Linked DNA regions of Homo sapiens. The protein of the gene in region 4 interacts with the protein of the main gene of each other region in a pairwise test. Each region holds a gene or a part of one and is shown on either strand. Other genes may lie near its edges. The genes, in order: SVOP, SLC35E3, SLC47A1, FXYD6, SLC16A7, SLC35E1 and ELOVL2.

Region 1 (2,914 bases), on a different chromosome or scaffold from region 4:
TTCCTCTTCCTCCTCCTCCTCCTTCCTTCTCCTCCTCTTCCTTCTTCTTTTATTTTTCTTGAGCCAGAGTCTCACTCTGTTACCCAGGCTGGAGTGCAGTGGCATGGTCACAGCTCACTACAGCCTCGACTTCCCAGGCTCAGGTGATTCTCCCACCTCAGCCTCCAAGTAGCTGGGACCACAGGAGCACACCACCAGGCTTGGCTAATTTTTGTATTCTTTTTGGAGTCAGGGTTTTGTCATGTTGCCCAGGCTGGTCTCAAACTTCTGGGCTCAGGCGATCCTCCCGTCTGGCCTCCTAAGTGCTGGGATTACAGTCATGAGCCACCACACCTGGCTTGTTTTGTTTTGTTTTGTTTTGTTTTTTAAGAGACAGGATCTGTCATTCTATCATTCAGGCTGGAATGCTGTGGCACGATCAAAGCGAACTGCCGCCTCAAACTCCTGGCCTCAAGTGATCCTCCCGCATCAGCCTCCCAAAGTGCTGGGATTATGGGCATGAGCCACTGCACCCAGCCAGGACCATGTCTTATGATATTTTGCATCCTCAGTGTTGAATAACATGTCCAGGACATGCTGGATATTCCATGCATACTGACCACTTGCCACGTTATGATCTGTAAGAGAGTTCTGATGAATAGACTTGAGAGTTTATGCACATGTCACTGCAGATTCCAGGCATACCAGCAATTGTCTGCACCACCCTGCTAAAGGGCAGGCCAATGCCACCGTGTCTGTACCTCTCCACCACTTCTTCCTGACCCAATTGAATTGGACCAAGACTCAATCCAACACTAAACTGGGCCAATCAGCTTCATTCCTGAAGATCTGGGAGTGGGGCACTGAGCAGCTGAGTCAGGTATGTTTGCAGAGCTGGGTTATGAGGCTATGGAAGCTCTGTGCATGATTATGCATACACAGCAGCCACAAGGAAACAGATGGAAGCTAGACTCATTTCTGCCAGAAAAGGGAAGAAACAAGAGCCACAGATTCAGAGGGGCAGCTGTCTTGGGCCCCAGTGGTTTCCCAGATCCCTGTTCCTCTGAATGACACCAGGCTGTACTTTATTCCTATGCAATCTCTCTAAACTGTCAGAGTGAACCATCAGCCCATCAACCAAAGCTGCACTGCAGATGCATTTTATTGAGCTCACACATCATTTGAACATTTTTGATCCAATATACTAATATTTGGAGATTTCACAGAAAAACCTAGACTCCTCTTTTGAACATTGTAAGATCTGGTCACACTGGACCCATGGTGGAACAACATCAGCTGGAAGGGAGTTGCAGCCCCCCCCTGCAGACAGGGCTGGTGTTTCTCTTGTCCTTACACCTTTTCCATTTCACTGATTTACATGCCCTGAATTTCCCCTGTAGGAAATTAACTACCGATCCCAGTCTTATAATAAAGCTCTGTTCCTTAATTTTAATTATCCTGAGTAGAATTTCTGTTCCTGGCCACGAAAACAGTGCTGATGAGAGCTCTGTGGCCTACACATCCACGGCAGGCTCCTTGCAACCATCGCCCATCCAACAGCCATTGCTATCCTTCTTCTGTGCTAACAGAATCCCAATTTTGTGTTCAGGAGGCTGTGGGTATCCCTTGGTGCTCGTAGGCCCTTCCTTCCAGCCCTACAGCAGGACTCATGCTGGGATGGGCATGACACCCAGGTCTGATCAATGAGAAGCAATGGTAAATCTGCCAGGGGACTTCCTTTTCTAACCAAAACCAACAGACTCTTCTGAAAGAAAACCTTTTATGACTGCTCCTTTCCCATTCTACCTTCTTTGAAAAGAAATATGATGTCCAGCACAGGGGCAGCCATTTTGTGACCATGAGGTTTCAAGCACAGGGTCAGATGGCCAACATGCAGAGGATGGTGAAAAGAAAAGGCAAAAAGAAGCTGGGTTCTTGATAACATTGTTGAGCGTTGAACCTTCTCTGATCTCTGCCTGGTTTTGGTTCTAATGGTTTAAGCCACTATTGACTGAGATTACTGTTCTTAGGTTGGTGCAAAAGTAATTGCATTTGGGAGGCCAAGGTGGGCGGATCACTTGAGGTCAGGAGTTTGAGACCAGCCTGACCAACATGGTGAAACCTTGTCTATACTAAAAATACAAAAATTAGCCAAGCATCAAGGCGGGCACCTGTAATCCCAGCTACTCAGGAGGCTGAGGAGGGAGAATCGCTTGAACCTGGGAGACAGAGTTGCAGTGAGCTGAGACTTCATCTCAAAAAAAAAAAAAAAGTAATTGCAGTTTTTGCCATTGAAAATAATGGCAGGGGAGACTCTTGATCTTATCATTCAAGGCTTTCTGTTGCTCAATGTTATATTAAAAACAATGAATTTCCATACTAATTTCAAAGTCAATTCCTAAGATACTGTTTCATCCCATTGTGAACACCACCAAGGTCAGTTATATGTTTTTCAGAATACTTGAAGTACGAGAAAAACAGAAATATATAGCTCTGGCTACATTAAATATCTTTTGCCACTTTCTGAGATCTTTCGTAACTCTAAGAGAAACATGGCATTTCCATTAACGAAAATAGGAGCTTTTTGAATAGGATTGTTCAAAATTAGATACAAATGTTCTCAGCTAAAGGTCTCACATATTCAGAAGTTTGGGTGCCTTTTGTGATAGCTCTTGTATCATTTGATAATATTGATTTTTTTGAAAAAGGCAGGCTATTTACAAGGCAAAGAGTTTTTGTTTTGTTTTGTTTTGTTTTTGAGATGGAGTCTTGCTCTGTCGCCCAGGCTGGAGTGCAGTGGCGCGATCTCGGCTCACTGCAAGCTCTGCCTCCTGGGTTCACGCCATTCTCCGGCCTCAGCCTCCTGAGTAGCTGGGACTACAGGCACCCGCCACCACACCTGGCTAATTTTTTTTTGTATTTTTAGTAGAGACGG
Region 2 (3,500 bases), on a different chromosome or scaffold from region 4:
GCCTGGGCAACATAGGAAGACCTCATCTCTACAAAAAATTAAGAAATGGGCAGGGTGTGGTGGCTCATGCCTGTAATCCTGGGAATTTGGGAGGCTGAGGCGGGTGGATCACTTGTCAGGAGTTCAAGACCAGCCTGGCCAACATGGCGAAACCCATTCTCTACTAAAAATACAAAAAAATTAGCTGAGGCTGGGTGCGGTGGCTCATGCCTGTAATCCCAGCACTTTGGGAGACCAAGGCAGGCAAATCACCTGAGGTCAGGAGTTCAAGACCAGCCTGGCCAACATGGCAAAACCCCGTCTCTACTAAAAATACAAAAATAAGCCAGGCGTGGTGGCACACACCTATAATCCCAGCTACTCAAGGAGGCTGAGGCACAAAAATCACTTGAACCCGTGAGGTGGAGGTGCAGTGAGCTGGGATCACACCTGTCTCAAAAAAAAAAAAAAAAAGAATTAGCTAAGTGTGATGGCATGCTTCCTGTAATCCCAGCTACTCAGGAAGCTGAGGCATGAGATTTGCTTGAACCTGGGAGGTGGAGGTTGCAATGAGCCAAGATTGTGCCACTGCACTCCAGCCTGGGCCACAGAGCAAGACTCTGTCTCAGAAAAAAAATAAATAAATAAAAAAGCCAGGCATGGTGGCACATGCCTGCAGTCCCAGCTACTTGGGAGGCTGGGGTGGGAGGATCACTTGAGCCCAGGAGGTCGAGGCTGCAGTGAGCCAAGATAGCACCACTGCATTTCAGCCTGGGCAACAGAGTGAGACCCTGTCTCAAAAAAAAAAACCAAACCAAAACAACAACAACAAAAGAAAGTGAAGGGCCTCTGGAACCCTATCACACTAAGGTAATTACCTTTACCATTTTGGTGAGGATCATTTCATGGATCTCTTTTGTATAAACACATAGGTACACATGCATGTGTGTATAATTTTAGATATGGAATGATATCATAGATGCTGTTTTTATTGCAGATTCCTTTTCCCCAGCCTTCCTAGCCACACACTCTTCCACATTCCATTACCCCCTAATCTTCCACATTCCATTACCCCCTAATCCGTGCCCCTTGAAGTCATGTTAACTTTCTAAGTGCTTGTTCTTCCATATTTTTCTCCATGCCGTATATATCCATACACACACACACACACACACACACACCCCAATTAAACATCTATTTCTTTTCTTTTTTTTGAGATGGAGTCTCACTCTGTCGCCCAGGCTGGAGTGCAGTGGTGCAATTCTTGGCTCACTGCAAACTCCGCCTCCCGGGTTCAAGCGGTTCTCCTGCCTCAGACCCTAGCTGGGACTATAGGCGCACACCACCACGCCCAGCTAATTTTTGTATTTTCAGTAGAGATGGGGTTTCACCATCTTGGCCAGGATGGTCTCAATCTCTTGACCTCGTGACCCACCCGCCTCGGCCTCCCAAAGTGCTGGGATTACAGTCATGAGCCACCGTGTCCGGCCACATCTGTTTCTTTGACAAAAGTGGAATCCTATTACATATGCTTTTCTGTATCTTGCTTTTCTGACTTAATAATATCTCCTAAAAATCTCTCCAAAGCATTCTTTCCAGGGTCTATTTTGTTGTTGTTGTTGTTTTTGTTTTGTTTTGTTTTGTTTTGAGTCAGAGTCTCACTCTGTCACCCAGGCTATAGTGCAGTGGCGTGATCTCTGTTCACTGCAACCTCCACCTCCTGGGTTCAAGTGATTCTTGTGCCTCAGCCTCCCGAGTAGCTGGAATTAGAGGTGTGCGCCACCATGCCTGGCTAATTTTTTTGTATTTTTGATAGAGACAGGGTTTCACCATGTTGGCCAGGCTGGTCTTGACCTCCTGACCTCAAGTGATCCACCCACCTCGGCCTCCCAAAGTGCTGGGATTACAGGCGTGAGCCGCCGCGCCCAGCCGGTGTCTGTGTAATAGCCCCTCTGCATATTCACTTTTTTCCCAGTTCTTTACCACTATGAACAATATTGTGATAAACATCCTTGTACATCATGTGTTCTCATGTACTGATAACTTTTTTCCTATGGAAATGAGTCCCAGGAGTGGAATTGGCAAATCAAGGGCATATGTATTTTGGGGACTTTTATTTTTTAGAGACAGTGTCTGGCTATGTTGCCCAGGCTGGCCTCAAGCTCCTGAGCTCAAGTGATCCCCCCAACCTCAGCCTCCCAAGCAGCTAGGACTAATGCGTTGGGGACATTTTAAGTTAGAATGTATAATCCTCCTATGTCTTAGTCAGTTCAGGCTGCTATAACAAAACTACAATGGACTGGGTGGCTTAAACAACAAATACTCATTTCTCACAGTTCTGAAGTCTGGAAGTCTGAGAACAGGCTGCCAGTATGGTTGGGTTCTTGGTGAAGGCTCTTTTCCTGCTTTATAGATGGCAGTCTTCTTGCCATATCCTCATCTGACAACAAGGAAGAGGAGAAGCAAGCTCTCTTGTATCTCTTCTTATCATAGGGACTAATCCCATTCATGAAGGCTCTGCCCTTATGCCATAGTCACCTCCCAAAGGCCCCACCTCCCAATACCATCACCTTGCGGGTGAGGATTTCAACATAGGAATTTTGGGGGGACACAAACATTCAGTCCATAATACCTTACTTATCAGGAATTCCTGCTTCCCACAAGAGTTCCCACAACTCTTGGAACACAGTCAGTGGGAATATCTTTTTTGTTGGTCGCATCAATTTATCAAGCACCTATATAGCCCTTAGTCTGTTCCCAGCACTATTCAAAGCACTATGTAAATATTAACTTATTTAATCTTCATAACTTTATTAGGTTGATGCTATACTAATACTATTTGTATTAGTCCATTTTATGATGTTATAAAAGCATACCTGAGACTAATTTATAAAGAAAAGAGGTTTATTTTGGCTTATGGTTCTGCAGACAGTACAAGAAGCATTAGTGCTGGCATCTACTTCTAGTGAGGGCCTCAGGAAGCTTACAGTCATGGTGGAAGGTGAAGGGGGAGCAGGCATGTCACATGGCGAGAGAGGGAGCAAGAGAGAGAGGGGAGGAAATGCCAGTCTCTTTTAAACAGCTAGCTCTCATGAGAACTAATAGAGCAAGAACTCACTCATTACCCTGGGGAGGGCACCAAGCCATTCATGAGGGATCCAGCCCCATAACCCAAACACCTTCTACTAGGCCTCACTTCCAACATTGGTGATCAAATTTCAACATGAGATTTGGAGGGAACAAACATCCAAACTATATTACCATTGTTATTATTTTTACTGATGAGGAAACCGAGAGATAAAGAGTTAGTAACTGGCTCGCAATCCCACAGCTAATAAGCAGAAACACAATTTGGATACATGCCTTCTGGGTCCAAAGTCTGTGTTCTCCAGTGCTCCGCTCTGCTTCCCCTAAGTAGACCAGTAGTTATTTCAAATTTATATATTTTACCATATACACTTTTTTTCTAAAGTAGAGGTCATTGGACCATCTATCAGATAATATTTCCACTTTGCAAAAGT
Region 3 (3,500 bases), on a different chromosome or scaffold from region 4:
AGTTAACCCTGACCCTTGAGGTCTCACTGGGCTTTAAATGAGGGCTTTGTAAAGAGAGTAACCCATAACACAATGGAAATGTGAGCCGAATGGTGCTTATTTCTCAAAAGATGCGTCCATTTTATCCTGGAGAAAGCTTGAGGAAGACTGGATTTGCAAGGGAGGGAACGTGCAGATACCTGGCCTCAGGTACTCCAGCTGTGCCTCTTCTTGGTCATCAGCCTCTCATCACCTGGCTGAATCAAAACAGCAAAAGTTCTGAAAAGTAACCCCAAAGATGGACCCCGGGCATTGCCCGGGATGTAACAGAGGTGGGATAGCCCAGGCCCCAGCTCAGGGAAATGTTTCCACTTGTGTGGGAAGGAGCTGGCGGACCTTCTAGGGTTACAGGGCAGAAATATCAGAGAAGGCAGGCAGGTTGAGGGGGGTGAGGTGGGGGATCTGGAGAGAACCGCTTTACCCGGGACACACAAAGGAAAAAATGCAGGCTGATCTTTTGAATTGTATCCTGAAGGCAATGGGGAAGATATTGATCAGGAAGTGGTTACTGACACCAAATTCTGCAGGGGAAGCCTGGTCAGAGACAGACAGGCCTAGGCCCGAGGAGGGGAAGACCTACAGGGAAGGTGGTTCCTTCCATTCAAAGGGTGAGAGGAAGTAGTCAAAGATGGCAGGAGCTGGACAGAGGAAAGCCGGGTGAGGTCCGGCCCCCACGCCTCTACTCCCCGTTCCCTCCTCCAATCCGTCCTCACCAAGGCCTTTGGCTTTAGCTCCTTAAATACCTCTCAGAGGGATCCACTTTTTCGTATCTCCGCTCTCATGCTCCAAATGGAGCCACCAAGTCCTTTTCAAACGCACATCTGAGCTTGTGCCTCCTGCTCAGAACCCTTTCCTTGGTTCTGCAAAGCCCTCTATGGCCTGGCCCTGGCCAGGCCTCCAGCCTCATCTCTCGTCCCTATCTCCTGGTTACACCCTCCACCCAGCCTCCTTTCAGTGCCTCAGCCTGGAAAGTCCTCCCCGACAGACAAGTCTCCAGCACCTGACTATTTGACATTGACTTGTTCATCATGCAGGTTTCAGCCCCACTTCATTTCCCCCAGAAACCTTCTCTGAATTCTCTGCTGCACCCCACAGCTCATCATGCAAATGTCTTGAGCTGTGTTATTTATTGCGTTTTGAACATCTTTCCCTATTCCACAGATGCTCCTTGGCTTACGATGGGGTTATATGCACTGAAAATATCATTAAGTCAAAATGCCTCTAAAGGATGAGATCACGGATTGCGAGAGTCCTGACTTGCGTGGGACGCATGCTATCCCCGTGCTGGCCAATTATCTTCAGTTCCATTGCAAGAGTAATAGCTGCCTTCTTTTCCCCAGAAGCAGGAGGCACAGATGGCCATTTTGTAGTTATGATGGGATGCAAAAACACAAAACAAAATACCCAAAAAACGCTGGCAACACAGTCCACTGTAGAGTGTCAGCTGCCTGCTCTCGTGATGGCAGGGCTGATGGGCAGCTGTGGCCCACTGCCCTGACAGGCACTGCAAGTCTGAGACTACACATCACTATCCGGGGAAAAGATCAATATCCCAAATTCCAAGTACAGTTTCTACTGAATGTACATTGCTTTTGCACCATTGCAAAGCTGAAAAATTGTAAGTCAGGACCATCTGTACTGTGGGTCCCGTGGGGCAGGAATGGAGTAATGGTGTCTAACTCACACCTGTTCCCCCAGTGCTGGGATGTACTTTGTGCTCCAAAGACAGTGGCCTTATGTAACCATCTGAGTTGAGAGTCAGGTGGCTGGGCTAGTTGCGAAACCTCCTGGGCTGTGCTTCCTCACATGTAAAAGAAGGGGGGCTGTCCCAGGTGACCTCTCAGCTTCTTTCCAGTGAGTGAACTTTCAGCAATCATGGGAGGGGGTAGGAGAGGCTGTCTGGAGGTGCCTGGCCCTGGAGAGCAACTTCTAAAGCTGCCAGGCGCTGAAGGTCTTTATCTGACTGCCAAGTTTGCTTATTGTTGTCTGGCCAAAATCTGAGCAGGGTCACTGTGACAAGAAGGGACGGAAGCACGGTCAGTCTGGAAGTTTCTTTGTTTGAAGCAGGGTCTCGCTGTGTCACCCAGGCTGGAATGCAGTGGTGAGCTGAGCTCAAGTGATCCTTCCTGCTTCAGGCTCCTGAGTGGCTGGAATTGCAGGTGCATGCCACCACGCATGCTATTTTTGGTATTTTCTGTAGAGACGGGGTCTCTACAAAATGTTGCCTGGGCTGGTCTTGAACTCCTGGGCTCAAGCAGTCCTCTTGCCTCAGCCTCCCCAAGTGCTGCGATTGCAGGGATAAGCCACCGTGCCCGGCCCAGTCTGGCAATTTCTGTCATCCATTCAGCTCTGTCCAAGCCACTGCCAGTTCAGGCTGTTCTTCAGACAGCAGCTGCTGAGACATCTAGCGGAACAGGCCTTTGTCCAGAATTGGTTCATTCCCCGAGCACAGAAATATGCTCTGTGACAGCACAGTCCCAGAGGGTCTGGAGCACTCTCAAAGTGTGGCCCTGGACCACATGCATCTTGCCTGGTGTGTATGAGGGAGCATGGGGATATACTGAAATGAAGATTCCTCAGCCCCAGGGAACTCCTGGGTCTTTTTTTTTTGAGATGGAGTCTCTCTCTGTCACCCAGGCTGGAGTGTAGTGGCTTGATCTCCGCTCACTGCAACCTCTGCCCCCTGGGTTCAAACGATTCTCCTGCCTCAGCCTCCCGAGTAGCTGGGATTACAGGTGTGCACCACTGCACCCAGCTAATTTTTTGTATTTTTAGTAGAGATGGGGCTTCACCATGTTGGCCAGACTGGTCTCGAACTTCTGACCTCAGGTGATCTACCTGCCTCGGCCTCCCAAAGTGTTGAGATTACAAGGCGTGAGCCACTGAGCCTGGCCTAACCTCCTGGGTCTTGCGATGGGCCAGGGCAAAGGCTCCCAGGTGGCCCTTATGTACATGATCCACAGTCTATGGCCAAGCGTTCACCCAAAGGGCTTGAAACCAGGATCTGAGAAGAGGTTAGTAAATCTGGACTCAAGCCAAGATCCCTGGCACGGACTTTCAGGATGGGCTGACTGCATGAGGCTGCCCGACTCAGGCAGTCGGAGTACAGGGTTGTTGCCGTAACCCTGGCAGAGCTGCGGCAGCTCTCAAAAAAACTATTTTTGCTGGCATTGACATTGAAGATGCATCTCACATGGATTAGTCTAACTCAGCTCGACTTCCTGGCCTTTTGTATCCGAGACATCTAATGATTCCCTTGGACTGGCCCCCACCCAAGTGAGAAAGATGTTCAAGGCAGTGCAATTTGTGATGGTAAGATCTGGGCAGCACTCCAAAGGCCGGGCAGTAGGGGAGACCGAGCACACTTCCATGTGAAGCCATGAAAAACAGCTCACAGGTGGCCCACAGGGAGGCAGGGAACTGTGGAGTGTAAACGTGATGTTCCGTGGGAAAGGAGAAGA
Region 4 (3,500 bases):
CATCTCTGTTTAATGGGCCCTGCTCCTCTGGAATTCCTTTGTGGAGACTGAGGTCTGTGAGGCAAGGTTAGATATTTGGGAACCAGTTTGTGTAGCTTTCTTTCTCTTGACCAACTGTTTGTTTTTGCAGCAGCTGAAAAGGAGAAGGAAATGGACCCTTTTCATTATGGTGAGCGATGGCAACCCTGGGTGCAGGGGTCAGGGGGAATGCAGCCCTGCCTGGCAGGAGGGGTAGGGGGAACAGACACCCTCTCCCTGGCCCCTTCCTCTCTCACCCTTGGTTCCTTTGGCAGATTACCAGACCCTGAGGATTGGGGGACTGGTGTTCGCTGTGGTCCTCTTCTCGGTTGGGATCCTCCTTATCCTAAGTAAGTTTGTTCTTTTGCTCACTCTGTTAAGAGCAATGACTGAGGCTGCTAAGCAGGTGGGGACAGTGTGAGAGCCTGGTTGGTCCCTCTCCTGGAGAGGAAAGGAGGCTGCCTGCCCTCCGTGTTATCTTCACGACCCAGTAGAGTGCTGGGCACATAGTAAGTGCTCAGTAAAACAGTGACACGGGAACAAAGAAAATGTCATATGACAATGAGCATAGATAGGAACGAGCAGGGTGGCTTCCCAGTGCTGTGTCTATAGGGCATGAATGGGGCAGTCACGGAGGAAGGAGACAGGTGCTGCCCTAGTGTGCGAGGGATGTGCCTCCGAGTTTGTTGTTCCCACATGAGCCTGATCTGCACAGATCCCTCTTTACTCACATGATCAAGAGGGCTGTGGGGGTGTAGCCATTCCAGCTATAGAATGTATTTCCTTTGCCCCAGAAGAAGCTACCCCATCCGAGGGCCACTGTGTGCAGCTGTGCAAACTGTGCACTGCCCAGGTCTAGGGGGTGCCATTTACATAGTCCCACAACCTGCACAGACCCTTGGCCCTGCTGTGGCCAAGCCAGCAGCATGACCTTGGATGGTTTCTTTGCTTTTCAGGTCGCAGGTGCAAGTGCAGTTTCAATCAGAAGCCCCGGTAAGGATGCCGTGGCAGTGGCCTTGGGGGGGTGATACTAGGTGGGACAGGAAGGGACCCCTGGTGTGTGACCCCCAAATGGGCATTCTCTTGGATTCTTGTCTCGGAGGCAGAACGTGTGTGTTGGGACGTAGGGCTGGAAGTTTGAGGACTGCCAGGTAGACTCTGGGGCAAAGGAGAGGTCAAAACATTGAAGGTCAGCCCATCCTGTCTCTTCTGATCTATGTGGGGGACGGGGAGTGGACAAGAAAGTACTGGAACCTTTTCTGGAGGCCCTTGGGACAGTTGAGCTTGGGAGAAGGGAAGCAGAGGGCTTCCTGGCCTCTCTAGATGCCCAGGTCCTCTCTACAGGACCTGCGACACAGTCCCCACTTGTCACCTGTTCATGAGGCTCTTTGAGCTGAATAGACACTTGGACCTTCTTTCTACTCCCACATAGAGGTCATACCCCATTAGTTTACTATAATAGCCAAGGGTAGCTTGGACCCCAGAAGTCCAAAGCGTGTGGCAGGACACACCCAAGCCCCCATGTGGCCCTAGCCTCCCCTTCCCATGAGGGCTGACATTGAAGGGTGCCTGTAAGTTCCCTCTGAGTCTGACCCTTCAGTCCAGACCTTTCCCTCTGTCCCATGCATCCCACAGCAGAGTGAGCTCCAGCCCCTCAGGGCACTGGGAGGAGCCTGACTGCAGGCAGCTGTGCCCCAGTGAGGAGCAGAACGATGCTCTCTGGGTCTGCCCTGGAGATCTCTGATGGGGCTGTGTGTCTCTTTCTCCTGCAGGGCCCCAGGAGATGAGGAAGCCCAGGTGGAGAACCTCATCACCGCCAATGGTAACTGTCCGTGACCACCTGCCCAGGTGGAAAAGAGGGAACAGAGAGACCCCTCTGTGGCTCAGGAAGGGACTGTTGCCAGGTGCATGGCCAGCCAGACATGCTCCCGCAGTGCCAGGAGAGTGGGTCTCCAGGGCCTCTGCAGCATTGCCCCCTCACTCCACCAAACAGGCTACTACTAGTGTCACCTGCTATTTACAGAGCATCTGCTTGTGCCAGGCACAGACCCCATATCATTTAATGGGCACACAGCCCTGAAATAGGCATCATTGTCCCCATTTTGTAACCGAGGGACTGAGAGAGGTTACCAGGTTCCTGTAAGCAGCAAGTAGCAGGGCCAGGATTGAACCCAGATCGTTCTGACTCGAAATCCCATGCCCGTCACCTCTTTGCTCCCCCAGAGTCAGGCAGAGACACGGCTGCTGTTGGGGGTGGCCCACGGGGGTGAGGAGTCTATACACTATAATCCATTCTGGTTTTCTTTCCAGCAACAGAGCCCCAGAAAGCAGAGAACTGAAGTGCAGCCATCAGGTGGAAGGTGAGATGCTCAGTGCCTGGATTGGCCCCTGTTGCCATCACCGTCTGCATCAGGGCCTGGACAGGGGTTCAGGCGGGAAGGATGGGGCTAGCTTTTGCAGTGGGCACAGCTTTTATTATGGGCCCTGCCCTGAGGAGCCTTCAGGAGTCTGAAAGGGGCTGTGAGAGAGACCAGGACTAGAAACACCCGAAGTGTCCCACACACATGCATGCCAACACCAGGAAATGGGGCTTCCACACAGCCCACTGGCCGAGTGCATAGGGCGTCATCCCAAGTGCAACATGGGAGAATTAGAGTTAGTGAAATGCTCCTAATCTCAAAGTAGCATAAAGATAATGGCTTTCCGTGGTGACTCAGAAAGTACTTTAGGGCCACTTGTTTTTTTAAACACCTTATTATGAAACTTCCCAACCCTAACCAAAAGTAGAGCAAATAGTATATGATCCTTCCCTCTCCACATTTAAGGGCACTGATTTTAGTATCTATTTCCATTGTTCATCGTAGGGGGCACAGGAGAGTAGTAACTGGCAAATGCTGTACAGTTTTCAGAGTGCCACCACACACACAGACTCACTCGAGTCTGCCAGAAAAAGAGGATGGGACAGGTGGGGTTTAGCCCATTTTATAGGTGAAACCAAGATGAGAGGGAATAGCCCCGTGGAGAGTGACAGCCCGGACTGTGAACTCAGGCCTTTGCGGCTGTGGTTCAGCGCCACTGCTCCCCTCTGTCCTGTGCGTCTCGCTTTATGACATGCCCTGGAATATCCTAAGGGAAAAGGTTTGTGTTTTGTCAGCTCACTTCTGCCTTTTTTTCCCCCCATACAAGTAAGGCATTATAGAAAGGTATATAAGTTTATCTCACATTGTAAGGTAAAAGAGGTTTCTGGATGATGAAGTGCCCGATGCACCAGCTTTGACTGTGCGTAACAATATCGTGTGCCTGTGTAGCATTTAAATTCTTTCCTAAGTGCTTTTGCATCCTCATAGCGGCCCGTGATGGGCAGAGCAGGGCTCATTACTCCCGTCTTCTGGATGGGGCTCTCGAAGGCAAGTGATCACCTAAGTGCGAATGGACGAAGATTCCGATCTAGGAGGCAGGTGCCCTTCCTGGTAGCTTGGTGT
Region 5 (3,500 bases), on a different chromosome or scaffold from region 4:
TAATACAACTTACCCTACACCGTAGCTTATTTTTCAAGTTTCTCTGAACATCTTTGTTGTCATTCACCTCTTTGTCTATTTGTTCTGTAGAGAAAACAAGTGTCATTGCTTTTGTCTTCTCCATCTAGACTTTTGCAGTCCTTAGACTATAGTTCTCCTTAGCTCTATTCAAATAGTGCACTTGCAAGGCGCTGCATTCTTCTCAAAGTCAGCCATGATGCACATATTTATAATTACATACACATATAATTGAATATGATTTTAGAGTCTTGAAAAACTGATCTTCTTTGGCACTATCCTGAATGTTTCTGATTTTCTTAAAGTGCCTGACAATATTGAGTAACAAAGCTTACCATCACCACATTGCACCATTATGTATTATTCTGTCTCCATCAATGCAGTGACATCACTGATACATCATACCAACAAGATTTCTAACCACAACCATTCAGAGCACTAATTAGCATCTATATTGAGAATATAAGATTAATATTACAAACTTGACTTTACTCATCTCTCTTTAAGATTTTGATTTCTGCACAACCATATGCAGAACTCATGTTTGAGAAGGCACTTAAAAGCTGAAAGGCCCAATTATCAGTAATTATAATGCTTGCATGATCAAAATTACAAATTATCTTTGTTGATACAATTAAAAATGAGTAATTTTCTGAGCTTATGTCACTTTTTTATAGTTCTGATTTTCTCTTCTTTCCTATCAGTTGTTTGTACACTGGAGATTTTAGCTCTTTACAGGGTGCTACAATCTGGTTTATTTTAGTCTTCTCTCCTCTACTGCTTTTTCTTCACTTTAATTCATTTATGTGCAAATCAGGGAAGAATTGCTGTAGTATTGAGAATGGTCATTTTAAAAGTCTCTACCTTAAGAGCAAAATTAATATTGCAAAATGAATTTTTGATTTTACAGAAGCATATGGGAATTTAGATCAAATTACATCTCCCATCCCAATCTCCTGCTTCTTCATCATCTCCTAAATGTTTTCCTTTCTATGTTTTTATAATATCTAGGTAAAACTTGTTTAGCATTTTTTATTTAATTATGGACATATTTAGTATGGACTTTTGTTTCTTTGGTATAGTTAGTTACACTTGTTTGCATGATCTACATGTTTTTCAGTCTCCATATATACTTGTTAATAAGGTGAGCAATATTCAGGAATATTTCAGTAGGCAATTAATGATCATAAATTTATTCACATTTCAGTAAATATTTTTCACATGATCAAACAGGATTTTTTGTTTCTTTTTAATTTAAATATGGCAAAATAAGCTAGAGAATCTCAGTGTGAAAACACTGATACTGAACATTCTATTAAAATAGAATAAGTTCGTGTAGGGACATGGATGAAATTAGAAATCATCATTCTCAGTAAACTATCGCAAGAACAAAAAACCAAACACCGCATATTCTCACTCATAGGTGGGAACTGAACAATGAGAACACATGGACACAGGAAGGGGAACATCACACTCTGGGGACTGTGGTGGGGTCGGGGGAGGGGGGAGGGATAGCATTGGGAGATATACCTAATGCTAGGTGACGAGTTAGTGGGTGCAGCGCACCAGCATGGCACATGTATACATATGTAACTAACCTGCACATTGTGCACATGTACCCTAAAACTTAAAGTATAATAATAATAAATAAAATAAAATAAAATAATAAAAATAAAAATAAAATAGAATAAGTTGATAAAAGCTCCTCTGTTCAGAAAAACAAAAGAATGGCATTTTATCTCACATAAATTTAGGATGAAATTTTAAAACATTCTTTTGACTAAGACTTTAATTCTTATATGCATCTAAAATAAATGTTTTGAGTTAGACTCAGTTTATATAGCTTCCTCGTTAGAGTACACATTTTTTTTCTCATCCTCCGAATCTCAAGAGTACATATTTCTGACAAGCTTTTCAATGGTACGATGGATTTTATTTTTCTATCATCAACTTTCTATATTTAACTAAAGCATTAGTATTTCTAGATTTAGTGAAATAGCAAATATGAATTAAAATATTTATTTCTAAACATTAGATCTAATTGTATTTTGATTTGTTTTGATATATTTATGTCTCAGAAGATATGTTTAATGAATTCATTTCATCCTCTCAACCCTCAGTTTTGATAGGTATCCACATTTTTACCATATAAAACTAGACTGGATTAAGGATTTTGCCTAAACCTATACCAATACTCTGAATAAATGCAGGGTTGGAGATAGAATTCAGGTCTTTTAACTTCTAACACACTTTTTTCTCCATTGCACTACAGAAGCCGTAAGGTCATAATGATGATCTTTGTAGAGTAAATAAAATATTTTCCTAGAAATATATATAACAACCCTACTTGATAGTTTATAGCCCAAATGAATATATTTTTCCAATCATGGTTTGCAAAATCATGTTTGCAAACTTACTTTGAAGACTATTTCCTGATTGCCACGGCAGATAATTCGTGGCAAATCAGAAATAATATTTAGTGAGATTAATTATTTTGCACAATATATGTTGTTATAGCAATATCAAAATCATTTAAAACATCAATATTGTATTAATAGAAAACATGTCAATATCTCATTAATTCCTTTTTTATTTTATGTTCCTTTTTATTTTAGAAGCAGTGTTCATTTTTTTCTGAAGTAGAACGCCAGAGCACAGAACACACAGTTCAAGTTTAAATTATTAAATTGTATGCAAGAAATTATTGCCATAGCATAGTCTTGAGGAGAACACCTCTACAGTATTTCTTGATCTAAGAACCTGAACATATGTTAATGAAATTATTAGAGTAAGTTCTATCTCAAAAATTTCTTATTTTATGAATGTTTTCTTCACCTAATAAACAATACTAAAATCCATAACAGCTGTCTGGCAACAGTGTAATTAGAGCTTCTTTTATGTTAGAGATTCCATCTACCTCTGCATCTTATCTAGCTAGATACAGTCTTTCTAAACTTTCTCCTTTATTCCCATGTAGAGAACAAACAAAAATCACACCTAAATTAAAGATCTGTGGTGAAGGGGAAGAGGGGTTGCTATTAGGAGTTTTCCCGGTAAAACTGTAAAAACAGTAATCTGCATTCAGTATTTGTTTGCCTAGTTCATCAAGATATTTACCCTAAAAACACATTTTAATAAAAATTTGGGTAAACTCATGTATCGCAGTAAAATCTTTTATGAATTGGGTGGGCCCTAAAAACATCTGTAGTACGTGATGTGTTTGGTTAGATTCAGCCAAACCGACACCCGTATGCTAAGACTGCATTGTCATTCTGACAGGAGGCAGGCCTCAGTAGTTGCAGTGAGTGCATTTACTAATATAAGGATCCTTCTTTGTAGTGACAACAAAAATGAGATTGTAACTTAATCAAATATGAGTCAGATATAGTAATTCCTGATATTGCAGATGAAAGAGCAGGGTCTTTTCAAGTGCTTGCTACAACTGACTAAATTTGAAGCTTTTTATGTAAAAGTTCTTCTCC
Region 6 (4,018 bases), on a different chromosome or scaffold from region 4:
AGGGCAGATCACTTGAAGTCAGGAGTTTGAGACCAGCCTGGCCAACATGGTAAAACCCTGTCTGTATTGAAAATACAAAAATTAGCCAGGAGTGATGGAACGCGCCTGCAATCCCGGCTACTCGGGAGGCTGAGGCAAGAATCGCTTGAACCCAGGAGGCGGAGCTTGCAGTAAGCTGAGATCGCACCACGGCACTCCAATCTGGGCAACAGAGGGAGACTCCGTCTCAGAAAAACAAACACTCTTAAGGAGAGATAGGAGAGGTGGAGATTTTAGGAGGGAGTGGTCATGCCACAAGGAGGGCAGACCGAGGGCTGTGGACCTGAATTCCAGCTTCCCGAATATCAGGCTGTGGCCCTCAGGCACATGATTCTCCCCTCTCAGTCCATCTCAGGAAAACCTGAGATCAGGAATGATGACTACTGGCCTTATCTGCCTTGCAGGGCAGGTTCCTAGAAGTTATGATGTCATTATAATTAGTCTGGCTGCCTAACCGGGCCAATTCCCAGTCTTTCCTCACTGTGTGAAGTTCCGGCTCCTTGCCCAAGCTGGGTACAATGTCCCGTACAACGGGGAAACCTGATACACACGATGATATCCGGTGATGCAGCTACACACCTCAGGGACAACTCTGACTTCTCAGGAGCCAAGTCACAGCCTGACATCACCCTGGGGGAGCAGGGCTACAGAGCACACACAGGTCTTGCTGAGACAAAGACAGGCAGGAATAAAAAAAAATCAGCCATAGGTGGCCCAATTTCTATAAGCCGATCCAGGGCACTACCTCTCTGAGTTACATAAAATACAACATGCCAGAAACCAACCACTTGGAAAAGAGGCACGGTGTCCAGCATCAGCATGAAATGGATTCCGGCTGAGACAACAAGCGCCCAACTTCCACTTAAGAATACGGGATAAAGCTGTCTCCGGCTAAAGCCATGGCTATTCTTGCCCCAAGCCAGGAAATACCCTGGCTTGGCATCTTGAACAGAATTTGGACTGTGCCCAAAGCATCCTCCTTATGCAGCCCTGAGTCCTGTGTGCCACTTTCGCTTCCGTTCCCAGACCATCACAACTTCTGGCTGTTTTAATTTCTAAGACTTTGCTGGATTTTGCCAAGATCGAACTCCTTGGATCGCGTCTGGCTTCTGATCCCAGAGGTCCCCTGACAGAAATCTCTTGTCAAGAAGTGAAAACCTAGCCAAGTGCAGTGGCTGACGCCTGTAATACCAGCACTTTGGGAGGCTGAGGCGGACGGATCACTTGAGGTCAGGAGTTTGAGACCAGCCTGGCAACATGGTGAAACCCTGTCTCTATTAAAAATACAAAAAAATTAGCCAGGTGTGGTAGTGCACGTCTGTAGTCCCAACTACTTGAGAGGCTGAGGCAGGAGAACTGCTTGAACCTGGGAGGCGGAGGTTGCAGTGAGCTGAGATTGTGTCACTGGACTTCAGGCTGGGCAAGAGTAAAACTCCGTCTCAAAAAAAAAAAAAAAAAAGTGAACACCTAACCGACAGCGTTCTGATCCATCCATCCCTAGTCCCACTGGAAAGGCCACACATGGGGTGTATGGCCAAGATGTGACCAACCCATCACCTACCAGCAAACCCAGGTAGGGAATCAAAACGGGGAGGAAAATTGGATCTGAAAGGGACAACAGTGTTCCTAAGACCACACAGCAGAGATCACAGAGGGACACATACTCCACACACCACTGCTCACAGGGTGATTCTAGAACTTGAGTAGTAAAAGGCCACTGGAGACCTCTACACTGACTTCCCTATTTGACGGGAAGCCAGGCAGCCTGCAGACCAGGATCCTGACCACGTCACCAGTTGGCAACAGGGAGGAACCCCCTGGAGCTCCCATCTGCCCAGAGTCCCTGCCCGGGGTTACCTTGGTGCTCTGCTTCTCCTTCATAATGATCCGGGACAGGAGGACCACCCAGATGGGCATGGTGGCCTTGACTGCAAAGAGAGGGATGGGCACTCAGGGGGCTGCCTGAATTTCAGGGCCCAACCTGTTCCACCTCCACGGCGGGATGGGAGGGCCTGGCAGCCCCTCACACCTCTTCGCCCCTTCTCTTTCGGTAGGGCTTCCTCCTGCCACGGCTGTTGTGGTCTGTCCTGCTTACCTCTCAGCTCTCTTCTCAGCTCCTCTTCTCCCTGAGAACCCCGTGCGTGTCCCTCCCCTACCAAACCCTTGGCAGCCCCTCTGCTGACTTCTCAGTCCGGCGGGACGCGCCCCGGGCGGCGCACTCCTATCCATGCGCCCAAACCCGAAGCGGCGGGCCCGGCCGCCGCCCCCGAGGCCGGGCGCGGAACCTACCGGTGTGTGCATAGGACACGGGCACCTTCCAGATGCTGACGTGCGCTGACACGGACGCGAAGTACTTGCCGAAGGCGAGCGGTAGCACGTAGCGCGGGTAGAAGCGCGGCGGCAGCAGCGGGCCGGACGACGGATGCGGACTGGGTCCGGGGCCCGAGACGGGCGGCGCGGGGGGCACGCGCCAGGCGCGCAGCAGCGGCGGGAGCCCAGCGCACAGAGCCAGGATGTGGCACAGCGACACGGTCACCGGGAACGGGAAGGCGCTCAGGATCACCTTGTTGACCACGTTGCCGCCCGCGCTCAGCGCGTACCACAGCAGGCACAGCGCCGCCACCCGCGCGCCCTCGCGCGCCCCACCACTGCTGCTCGCTGCGCCCGGGCCCCCCGCGCCGTGGCCCGCGCCCACCGCGGCCGCCGCCATCCTGCCCGAGCGGCCGCCCCTTCCAGCCCGTCCGACGGCCCGACGCCGGGCGGGGGCGGGGCTGGGCGGGGGGGCAGGCGCCCCGGTCTACGCCGTTTCCCATTGGTCGCTGCCTCCTCGCGTCATCCCTCCGCGCCGGCCGACGCGCCAGCCACCACGTCTCGAGTGCAGGCCCAGTCCACTGTAGATGCGCTTCCGGCGGAGCCGAGGCCGGAAGCGGAAGAAGGGGACACAGACCTGCGTCCAAGCTGTGCCACCTGAGACGTGGGCGGTCCCAGTGACCGGGAGCCGGAGCTCGAACGGGACGGGCGAACAGAAGCGCGGAGGGCTTCGCAGCGTCGGCGTCTGTGCGTGGGCCAAACATCAGGGCCTCGACCAGGGATACAAGGGCAACCGCTAACTAGATTCCTGATTCCTGATGGCTGGCGGCGGCTGACACCAAAGGTAAAAGGCCTTTTAGGGAAAGAAACCATTTGTGAAAAGCTCTTGGGCTAAACTCGCTCTGCAAACTGGGGGCGCACGCTCGTGGCCAAACTCTGGCAGTGGGACTATCCCGGAGCACCCGATCCCTGGAATCATGTTCTGGAAACCACCGCGACGTGCGCAGTTCTCGGGCGTGGCCCTGGTATCATCCCACTGAATCCTAGGAACGCGGTGCGGTAGGTATCACTGTCCGCATTTCACAGACCGAAGTCCAGAATGGGGAAGCGACTTGTCTTAGGCTTCCTGGCCACACTGGGGACCGTGGTCATGGTAGCGTCCTTGGACACCTGTCTCCAAGGCTCTGCAGAAGGGGGAGGTGCCGGGCCCTGACGGCTGATGTCCAAGGACCAGCCGGGATGGACCAGCCCCAGGAGGCCCCAGTGGAGGAAAACAGGACGAGGTTTTCAGTAAGATGATCTTATACTAATTCAAGGGCTATAATTTGTTCTCCACATCGTGTGCCTCCAACTTTTTCGGGGAAAGGGTGTTAAAATTCCGTTACAGTGTTTTTACTTGTCAAATTAGAAGCAGCAACCGGCTGGGTGCAGTGAGTCAAGCTTGGAATCCCAGCACTTTGGGAGGCCAAGGTGGGCGGATTGCTTGAGCTCAGGAGTTGGAGATCGTGGCATCGATAACATGGCAGAACCTCATCTTTGCAAAAAATACAAAAATTAGCCAGGCGTGGTGGCGCACGCCTGTGGTACCCACTACTAGGGAGACTGAGGTGGGTGGATCGGCTTGAGCCCAGGTCAAGGTTCCAGTGAGCTATGATGGCGCCACTGCACT
Region 7 (3,500 bases), on a different chromosome or scaffold from region 4:
TGTCAAGTAGATATTATGTATCTAGTTATGTTCAGAAAACAGGGCCCTGCTATTCAGGGTTAGGTGGATGATCGTCTGGGTTGGACAGTTGGATATGTATCATCTAACTTGACAGGTTTGCATTTCTGGGAGTAGACATTGATAAGGGGAAAGAAGTTGCACCAGAAACTTCTTTAATGGCCCAATGTGGTGAAAATACGCCAGCATCAGTAGCTCATAGTAATTCTACAGTTACAGATTCACGCATTTGTAGCTTTTCTTCTTAATTGAATTGGGACATAACTGACTTTGACAATGAACAATTCTAATAAATAGTTAATTTATGACATTTTAAATCTAACCATTTAATAATTGGAGAGCATAACTTGTTCTGAAATTTATGTGACAGTTTAGAACCTGAGATCTGAGGTCATTCGTGGGCTTGAATCCTGACACCAGCATTTAACTGTGTGACCTTGGGCTTCAGTATTTTATCCTGTAAAAGATGATAATATTTCATAAGGTTTTCGGGAGGAACAAATATGATGGTGCCCTTTATGTGTCTAAAACAGTGCTTGGAGTGCTTAGTAAATATTAACTATTATAATGATGTGTGTTCTTTTTTCTCCCATATCTATTTTAGTTGAGACACTTCAGAATGATGTCTCTGTCCCTTTTGTGGTCTTAATATACAACTAATATTGCTGTCCAATAGAAATATAACATAAATCGCATATGTAATTTTCAGTTTTCTACTAATCATATTTAAAAAGTACAGAGACAAGTGAAATTAGTTTTAATAATGTTATTTAACCCAATCCATGCAAATATTTCAACATGTAATCAATGCAGAAAAAGATTTTTCCATTGTTTTTTTTCATAGAAAATCTTCAAAATCTAGTGTGTATTTTATGCTTAGAGTGCATCTCAGTTCAGGCTAGCCGTATTTCAGCGGCTCAGTGGCCACCTGTGGTTAGAGGCTACCGTATTGGACAAAGAGCTCTAGATTGTACACAACTTCCAAGTTTACCTCTTAAAGCTCTTACACCCTTTCCACTAGTGAGAACCTCACTGCCACCTTAAACCCAGCATTACAAAAAGAAAGCTACTCATCTTTCAGACTCTCTTCTCTGTTCTCTTTTGCTGTTAGTAATTCCACCAGCTCTTCAGTCTACTGTGTCTGAAATCTGATTCTTATTCTCTTTTTTATTTTATATTGTTTGTTGTCTAATATTCTCATATTTTTACTTGAAAATATTTCAAAATCTCTTTCCTCCACCCCTTGAGCCCCCTTTCCACCATTTTTGCCTTTTCTACAGATCTCCTCTTTTGTAGACTCTTTGTTTTAACTTTTTTACTTCCTGTCTCTTGGAAAATGTATATCTCTCGCTGAATCACTGGGCTCCACATTCTCTCCATTCCTTCCTCAGCCCTTTTTCATGTTGTCAGAAATGGTTTCTATTTTATAGGTTATTCCTACCCTTAATACCTTTCCTTTGTCAAATATCCAGAGAAGTATAATTACTTTCACAGATAGTCTGATAGTAAAATGATCCACTCAAGAAAAGAAGCACAGATAAAGGAGAAAAATAAGCTAGGGGAAGGGAAGATGAAATCATTCTTTGAGTTTTATTTTCCTTTCAGGAAATATCAGAGGGAATCGATTCTAGTAGTCTGTAGTACAGTAGAGAAATTATATGACTATTTATTTTATGTTTCAAAATAGCTAGATGAGAATTGTAATATTTCTAACATAAGAAAAGATAAATGTTTGAAGTGATAGATATTCCAGTTACCCTAACTTGATCATTACATTGTATACATGTACCAAAACATCACATGTACCCTGGGAATATGTACAACTATGATGCATAAATTAAAAAATAGTAACAGAGAAATATCATGGAACTGATTAATAATCACAATCACCACCACCACCACAATAGCAATGAAACTTGATGTTTATGCAGTGCTTTCTAAGAAACAGGGCACCTTCCTGTGTGCCTGGTGAACAGAGGGAGAAAACGAAAGGCACTGGACCAAGAGTCAAGAAACCTGGGTTCTAGCCCTAGCTTTATTGTTTACTAGCTCCATTCCCTTGCTTAAGTTGCTTTGAGACACTGTTTACTCACTTGCTAAATGGTGTATTATCTCTGTCACAAGATTGTTTTGTTAGAATCAAATGGGGCCTCAGCATCTTTACATTGGCTGCCCTTTGGCTGTATACATCTTTCCCCCAGAGAGCTTTATGTCTGTCTGCTTAATACTTTCATGATTAGACCTACCCTAACCACTCTACTAAAACTGGAACCTGCCTTACCATATGTCACACACCATATTCACACACACAGTTGGATATGTACCACACCTGATCCTCTTACACTGCTTTATTTTTTTTCCACAGCACTTAAAACTAGCAGTTTGCTAATTTACATAGCACTTGGAACCATTTAATCATTAATCTCTTGATAAATTTAAAATTATTTAATTATCACAATTCAGTTTGAGCATGTTTCAGTAATACAGCTGCTTCATCAATACACATTTGCCTGTGTAACCTTTTAGTAAATGATAATATGTATTCCTACAGCATATTTACACTTCATAGTCATATTTGTGGAAAGGGCCAGGTTATGTCATTTTTAAATAATTTAATCCATATTTCATCATAAGTTTTTAATGAAATTAAAATGCATATGTATTTCTATTTTTAGATAAATCTATACTTATAGCATTAAGTTCTTGCTGAAATTAAAAATGATTATCTTAAAATATAAACAAAGCTATGATATATGGATTTGCTGAGTAATTTTATTTTTATTTTTATTTATTTATTTATTTATTTTTGAGCTGGAGTCTTGCCCCATCACCAGGCTGGAGTGCAGTAGCGCAATCTTGGCTCACTGCAACCTCTGACTCCAGGGTTCAAGCGATTCTCCTGCCTCAGCCTCCCGAGTAGCTGGGACTACAGGCGCACACCATGCTGAATAAATAATTATTTTTACTTTACATATATGTGTGGCCTTTAGTTAGCATAACTTAAATATGATTCAAGTACTGTATAATAATACTATTTTACATTTATTAATCAGTTGAATGTTTTTCAATGCATTTTAATCCACCTTAACTCTTTCTGAAGCCTCACAAAAAAACTTTTGTGAGAGGCAAGTCCTGTAGCAACATACCTACTTTACAGTTTCAAAGAAGATAAATAATTTGCCCAAGGTCACATACTAGAGGTAGCAAAACCAGCTCTAAATATTCTCAATCCAAAATAACCACCTCTTCTGCTATTCCATATAGCCTTAGCCTTTGAGAAAGGCAGTAGTACTTTTCCCCATTATTACATATGAAAATGGAAAAATCAGAGTGACTTCCCCATGTAGTTTCTTTCCCATAAATTACAGGGATGGATAGATAGATATGGATATATACATATATTGCATATATACACTTAAACATATTAAATATATAAAGTCTTAAGTTTCATTTCATATATACAGAAAATGGAACCTGCAAAG

The links.
Region 1: the proteins of FXYD6 (region 4) and SVOP interact in binary tests that used the Homo sapiens proteins (3 or more experiments, as listed by UniProt).
Region 2: the proteins of FXYD6 (region 4) and SLC35E3 interact in binary tests that used the Homo sapiens proteins (3 or more experiments, as listed by UniProt).
Region 3: the proteins of FXYD6 (region 4) and SLC47A1 interact in binary tests that used the Homo sapiens proteins (3 or more experiments, as listed by UniProt).
Region 5: the proteins of FXYD6 (region 4) and SLC16A7 interact in binary tests that used the Homo sapiens proteins (3 or more experiments, as listed by UniProt).
Region 6: the proteins of FXYD6 (region 4) and SLC35E1 interact in a two-hybrid assay, tested with the Homo sapiens proteins (one large-scale study listed by BioGRID and IntAct).
Region 7: the proteins of FXYD6 (region 4) and ELOVL2 interact in binary tests that used the Homo sapiens proteins (3 or more experiments, as listed by UniProt).

Annotation. Positions count from the first base shown.
Region 1 is NC_000012.12:108,907,241-108,910,154, forward strand, and holds the end of SVOP (synaptic vesicle 2-related protein), read right to left. Parts: 3' UTR 501-2,914; downstream 1-500.
Region 2 is NC_000012.12:68,752,676-68,756,175, forward strand, and holds part of SLC35E3 (solute carrier family 35 member E3), read left to right. Parts: intron 1-3,500. UniProt on the Homo sapiens protein: Putative transporter.
Region 3 is NC_000017.11:19,536,854-19,540,353, forward strand, and holds part of SLC47A1 (multidrug and toxin extrusion protein 1), read left to right. Parts: intron 1-3,500.
Region 4 is NC_000011.10:117,838,659-117,842,158, reverse strand, and holds part of FXYD6 (FXYD domain-containing ion transport regulator 6 precursor), read left to right. Parts: intron 1-130; coding exon 131-169; intron 170-293; coding exon 294-368; intron 369-974; coding exon 975-1,011; intron 1,012-1,790; coding exon 1,791-1,840; intron 1,841-2,328; coding exon 2,329-2,357; coding exon of another isoform or gene 2,358-2,378; intron 2,379-3,500. Other genes in the region: FXYD6-FXYD2 read-through protein isoform 1 precursor, read left to right, coding at 131-169, 294-368, 975-1,011, 2,329-2,378. UniProt on the Homo sapiens protein: Associates with and regulates the activity of the sodium/potassium-transporting ATPase (NKA) which catalyzes the hydrolysis of ATP coupled with the exchange of Na(+) and K(+) ions across the plasma membrane.
Region 5 is NC_000012.12:59,784,529-59,788,028, forward strand, and holds part of SLC16A7 (monocarboxylate transporter 2), read left to right. Parts: 3' UTR 1-3,500. UniProt on the Homo sapiens protein: Proton-coupled monocarboxylate symporter. Catalyzes the rapid transport across the plasma membrane of monocarboxylates such as L-lactate, pyruvate and ketone bodies, acetoacetate, beta-hydroxybutyrate and acetate.
Region 6 is NC_000019.10:16,569,616-16,573,633, forward strand, and holds the start of SLC35E1 (solute carrier family 35 member E1), read right to left. Parts: upstream 2,801-4,018; 5' UTR 2,750-2,800; coding exon 2,329-2,749; intron 1,968-2,328; coding exon 1,897-1,967; intron 1-1,896. UniProt on the Homo sapiens protein: Putative transporter.
Region 7 is NC_000006.12:11,037,806-11,041,305, reverse strand, and holds part of ELOVL2 (very long chain fatty acid elongase 2), read left to right. Parts: intron 1-3,500.